Linked DNA regions of Homo sapiens: region 1 is linked to region 2. The links come from fine-mapping of genetic effects on gene expression. A gene starts in region 2. The other region holds a variant in brackets. All regions are shown on one strand. Distances are from middle to middle. Region 1 overlaps DCAF7 (DDB1 and CUL4 associated factor 7). Region 2 holds the start of LIMD2 (LIM domain containing 2).

The links. PIP is the estimated chance that this variant, and not a neighbour inherited with it, causes the effect.
Region 1: its variant is fine-mapped to the expression of LIMD2 in whole blood (TOPMed, PIP above 0.99).

Annotation. Positions count from the first base shown.
Region 1 is chr17:63,578,982-63,581,877 of GRCh38, reverse strand. DCAF7 (DDB1 and CUL4 associated factor 7) reads right to left here. Exons shown (of 7, transcript NM_005828.5): 3 at 2,430-2,541; 4 at 1,935-2,053. Among named protein-coding and RNA genes, the nearest start is that of TACO1, 20 kb to the left of the region's middle. The variant C/T (reference allele first, on the strand shown) is at 1,091.
Region 2 is chr17:63,698,918-63,701,813 of GRCh38, reverse strand. It overlaps LIMD2 (LIM domain containing 2), which reads left to right and starts at 1,689. Exons shown (of 5, transcript NM_030576.4): 1 at 1,689-1,782; 2 at 2,466-2,557; 3 at 2,745-2,786; 4 at 2,876-2,896. The coding sequence starts at 2,516. It overlaps LOC729683 (a long non-coding RNA gene), which reads right to left and starts at 1,476. Exons shown (of 1, transcript NR_046273.1): 1 at 1-1,476. RefSeq lists enhancers at 211-310, 106-690, 691-1,276 and silencers at 981-1,940, 2,031-2,490, 2,581-2,810.

The DNA.
Region 1 (2,896 bases), 120 kb after region 2:
ATCTGCCAGGTATCAATGAGAGCCTTCCAAACAAGTCTTTTCCTAGAGAAAGGTGGACTGAGAAAAATCAAAGGTGCTAGAAAGGTGCTATTACTGTTTCTCTAGAGCCACTATCCTTTCTCAGGTTTATTCCTTCAAGACAAGGCTGCCGGTCCAGGCCTGTCTGCTGTCAAGATCCATTCCTGGCCTTTCTCCCTGCTCTTCTTCTCTGTGTCACAAGAGAACTGATTCCTACAGCGTGCATTTGGCAGGGTCTCAGATCTGCTGGCTGCTTCTGGCTGGTTCAGCCATGGGAGGCTTTGGTGGGAAAATGGATGATGGGAGGCAGGGAAAAGCTAAGGTATTTCTCCTCCCCTCTCTCTGTTCCTAGAAGCGTCTCTGCCAGGTAAATCCAGCCCCTGGGCTCCAGGAACCCTGCCTCCTCCCATGGTCCCTCTGGCCTATAGGCAGCTGCAGCTTCCTGCTGCTCCCATTCTATGGATGACCTCACTGCTACCTATGTGGCTTCTCAGCTTTACCATCTTCTGTATAAGCAGCCCCTGGATTAAATCCCTGCAGTTCAAATACTTAAGAGTAGTTCCCATTTTCTGGGTTGGACCTAACAGACAACAGCAGGCTAAGTTGTCATATAACTAAAATGTAGCCGCTTGTTCAACTTGATGCCAAGAGGGTTTCCAGAAGTTCCTTACTGGTCCTCTCTGTGGGACAAACTCTTCATTTGACCCCTGGTTTAGCAGCAGTCAACTCTAGAAGTCTTGTAACAGGGCTTACCTTCAGGAGTACAGAAAGCCAAAGACAACCCCTTACTAAGAATGATAACCTGGGTCACATCTTCCTATGCTGTTGACAACCTCAAGTTTCTGACCTAAGATCAAGGCATTCCTTTTATCTGTATAGATATTAATACCCCTAGCTGTGCAGGGTAAGGTAGAAAAGAACAGGAAATAGTACCCACAGGAGATGAGAGTACCAGGAGCATGCAATGGCTGTAGGAGGAAAAGACTTATGGGGATTTTCCAAAATCACTGAGAAGAATGCTTTGATTAAAATGCAATTGGCCGGGCGCAGTGGCTCACGCCTGTAATCCCAG[C/T]ACTTTGGGAGGCCAAGGTGGGTGGATCACCTGAGGTCAGGAGAGTTCGAGACAATCCTGGCCAACATGGTGAAACCCTGTCTCTGCTAAAAAATACAAAAATTAGCCAGGGGTGGTTGCGGGCACCTGTAATCTCAGCTACTCCGGAAGCTGAGGCAGGAGAATTGCTTGAACCCAGAAGGCAGAGGATGCAGTGAGCCCAGATTGCGCCATTGCACTCCAGCCTGGGCAACAAGAGGAAAACTTTGTCTCAAAAAAAAAAAAAAAAAAAAAAAAAAAAGCAATCACAAATAGCTCTTCTCAGTTTTCCCAATAAACACAGAAGCATCGCCATCAAAATAAAATATATTCCATTGCCTCCACTGCCAACAGTAATGAAAGTATAAAGATTAAGTGAACATACTAGGATTTGGTAAAACATTTATAGAGAAAAATGAATAATTACGTTTGTCTCTCAGAAAATTTTTTCTCTTCCTGTCTCCCTTCTTTCCTCCCCAAATCTAATCTGTTTCAAGATAAGTATTACTCTAAAGTTATTTTTTAATCACATCAGTTCCCAGCTCCTCTATAAGAGACTTTGTTATTTAAAAAAAGCAACCTCTGGCATGAAAAGAACAATGACAGACCGTAGAATAGGTCATTTACATTAGCCAAAAAAAAGCATTAGTTTACAATAGTGTTGTTTTCCCGTTTTTGATACATTACTATTGTCAATTTAGACAAGAAGATGTTATGTTATGATTTTCTACATAAATTGCAGAACAATGAGAGAACAAGCTGACCTCTTCCTGTGCGGAAGGCACAGGAAGCATTTGAGGAAAGACGAAATGGAAAAGCATCTTACCTCTTTGTCATGGGCGATCAGCTGGGTCTTCACGTGGCCAGACACGAGATTCACTCGCCCTAACACCTGCCCTGTCTCCAGCCCCCAGATGGTGCATGTCGTATCAATGCTTGAGGTACCTGCAAACAACCAGTGCAAGTCAGGGCTGACGGGACCAAGGTTCTCATGCAAGCTTCCCTCTTGTGTTTACTCATCTGCTCAGCCCAGGGAGCAGCATACCATAAAGACTACAGAAAACAAGGTGGGGGCTACCGGCAGAGCCACCGAGGCAGTCAAGTCTTCAGTCCTCACCGTAGGACCTTAGATTCTAACTGGAGAGACAAGATCTATACACACGGAAAGCTCACCCACACAAAGGAATTAATAAATAACCACATTCCACGCCTAGCCTACTTCCCACTGAGCCTTGTTCTAGGATGTATGGCCCAGTGTGACATCTGAGAAAATTTATTTTGGCTTCTTCCAGCTGAAATACATACTCCCTAACTCCCTTACCTAAAAGATAAGGATCCACCTCATTCCAGTCAAAGGAGGTCAGGGGAGCACAGAAATCAGAGTTCTTATTATTGTTTAGCAAACACTCCAGCCTGGTCTCTGTTTCACCAACCTGAAGGAACAAGAATTTTAAAAAAAATCAGCCAGTCTTATCCTCATAAAAAGTCTTTTAAAAAATCCCTGTTTAGAAAATATCTTAGCAAACATAAGACATGAGGGGAAAACATTTTTATCAAAAACAGTAATAAACCCAGGACTCCCTGAATGCTACTTTTTCCCATACTTTCTCCTCTGCCCAGCTTTGTTTTCTACATTTTCATCCCTGCACCTTCCTAGAGGAGAGGTCTTCTCACTTTGCCCAGCCTGGAACCTCTGCACAGGTGTACTAAGGCCACGCCCATGCTACAGAGGACGCTGCTGCTGATGAGCTCAGCTGAGGGTGGAGGGAAGCCTCCAAGATCCACTCA
Region 2 (2,896 bases):
CTTGGACTTCTGACCTCGTGATCCACCTGTCTCTGCCTCCCAAAGTGCTGGGACTACAGGCGTGAGCCACCGCCGAGCCAAGTTCCCTTTTTTTGTTTGTTTTTGACGCTGGTCATCAGTTTCCTTTGCTTCTGGATGCCTTCTGCACCTTGCTGTTGGGGCATCCTCAATGCCCATCTGCAGCTCAGCCCACAGGCCCGTCCTGGGCAGGGTGCCGGGGCCTCACCATGCCCAATGGCAGCAAGCCCTGCTCCTAGTACCCCCGGGGCTTCCCGTTTCTTGCATCAAACAGCCCCTTTGGAGAATCTGATGACAGGTGTGGAAGCTTTCCCGAGAGGCAGCCACTTTAGAGGGTCTGACGCTCCCCACTAGAGAGTCGGCCCACAGTGCAGACAAAACGCAGATCTTCCTCTAGAGAGAACAGAAGGCTGGAGAGGAGACGCGGAGCCGGTCCGTGGAGTCCGCCAGCCTGGGAAACAGCTGGTCGCTGGGGAAGCTGCAGCCTCCCTGCTCCCCTGCCAGGCGTCGGGCGAGAGCTGTTCTGTTCCCTGACAAGCGCGTGGGCCGCCAGTGCTATTCCTGCCACAGTGTGGGAAGGCGCTGGGCTAAGGGCTGTGCTTCCCGGAGCTGCTTCTAGCCTGATTTCCGGCCAAGCCACGCAGTCCCTGGTGCCCGGGAAGGCGCCGGCCTCGCCGCCGCTCCAAAGCGAGTGGCCGTCTCTCGCCGGCTGTGCCTCCGGCCTGCTGTGCGGCTGCAGGGAGGGAGCAGCTCTGCGGCCCAAGCTCTGTCACCTCAGCTCTCTGGGCCGCGGCTCCCACGTGAGAAATGAGGTGCGCTTGTTGGAGAGGGGGCCCCCGTTGCTGCCCACAGAATTCCGCCCCAGAAACGCTTGAGTACGTGGAGCCTCGGGGGACGGGTGCTCCGGGAACCACGCATACCGGCCTCCCCAGCCCGTCGCAGGGTTGCAGAGGCGCCGAGGGCTGGGGGGGCTGCCGGGGCTGCCGGGCCCTCGTGCAGGCTCCTCCCCGCAGCCTCGCGGCCGGGCCTGGAGACCGCGTGCCCGGACGCCGCCGCCAGCCTCGTGGGCCGCAAAGGGGCGGGGGCGGCCCCTGGCGGCGGGAGGACTCGGCCGCCCGAGGGACCCCGGGCCAGGCTCCGGGGTCGCCCCGGCTGGGTCTCTGCGGCCCCACAGCTCTGGGCGGGGATGGGGGCGCCGGCGCCTACGCGCGAGGCCAACCGGGGGAAACCGAGGCAGTGAATGGCCCAGGCCCCGCCCGGTTATCCCGGAGCCAGGCCGGGAGCGCCCAGTGTCCCGCGACCGCAGCCGCCGCAGCCTGAACTCGTCCCCTCCCAGTAGGATGCGGAGCGCGGCCCTTCCATCCTGTCCCTGCCACCGTTGCTTCCCCACGCCGGGCCGCCGTCGGGATGGGCAGACGGCGCGGCCGGTACCCGAGGCCTGCGAGCGCGAGGCCCGCGGGGCGCTGCGGAGCCGGGAGCGCGGAGCCGGGGCGGGGGACAGACAAAGGCGGGGACGGCGGCGAGGGGAAGACAAAGCGCGGAGGGGGGTCGGCGGCGGCGCCGGGGCCCCGAAGGCGGCTCCGGGCGCGGCGGAGCCAATGGGCGGGCGCGGGGCGGGGGCCGGCGGGGGCGGTGCAGCGATAAGGCGGTGGCGGCGGCGGTGGCTCGGGGACCACTGGTAGCGGCAGCAGCTCGCGCCCGCGCCCTCCTCGTACCCGTGCGCCCCCGGAGACCGATCCCGCCCCGCGGCCCAGGCCGGGCCTGGTGAGAGCCGCGGGGGGAGGGGCCGCGTCCGGCTCCGGAACCGGGAGAGGCGCCGAGGGGTGTGGGGTGAGGGCCGCCCGTGGGGTCCCGGCGAGTCTGCGAGCCGCTCTCGCCCGGGGCGCACAGGCTCGAGTCCTCGTTTCAGGGCCGGCCCCCGGCTGGGCGGAGCCGAGACCCGCTGGCGGGGCTCGCGGCGTCGGGGTCTGGGGTCCGGTCCTCGCGGGGCCAGGTCGGGGGCCGAGGGGCGGGGCGGGCGGGGACCTCGGGCGCTGTCCAGGGGCTGCGCAGCCTAGGCCTGGACGCCCGGGCGCGGCGCAGGGCAGCGAGGGCCGGGGTCAGGTCGGGGCAGCGGCTTCTCATCGCGGCCCCGCCGGCCCCGACCTCCCCTCACCCCAAGCGGTCCCAGCCCGCGGGACGCACACGGCGGCTGCGCGGGAGCCCCCGGCCCCTCCGCTCCCGCTAACTTTGTTCTTCCGAGGGACGGTGCCACTCGGGACCCCGGCCCCTGGGGAGCAGGGGTGGGGGAGGTGGGTGAGGGGCGGAAGTGGCAAGACCAAGAGCAACAGGAAATGACTTAGGGAAAGTCCCAACCGCAATCCCCCCAGCCCCTGCCTGTCAACACCCCCCACCCTGCAGGCTGGGGCCGGGCTGGCGGGGCCCTCCCGACTGACTTCCCCTTGCAGAACCCAGCGGGTGCCGCTTCTCCACCCGAGGCTTCCACCTCCAACGAGCCATGTTCCAGGCTGCAGGAGCCGCCCAGGCCACCCCCTCTCATGTAAGTGCCCGGCTGGGTGGGAGGGCCCCCCGGACAGGAGCCTGGCCTGGGGTGAAGGGGAGAGGCATCAGAGTTTGCCGGCCCCCTTTGTGCCCTGCGGCGCGCCCCTGGGCCTTGGGCTGATGGCTGCAGCCCTGATCCAGGGCCTCCCGGAGCTGCCCCTGCCCTGACCGCCCCTCTCCCTCAGGACGCCAAAGGCGGCGGCAGCAGCACGGTGCAGCGCTCCAAGGTAGGGGCCTGGGGCCGGGTGTGCGGGAGGAGGGGTGTGAGGGAGCGGGATGAGCACTGGGGCAGCACCTGGCTGAGCTTCCCGCACAGTCCTTCAGCCTGCGGGCCCAG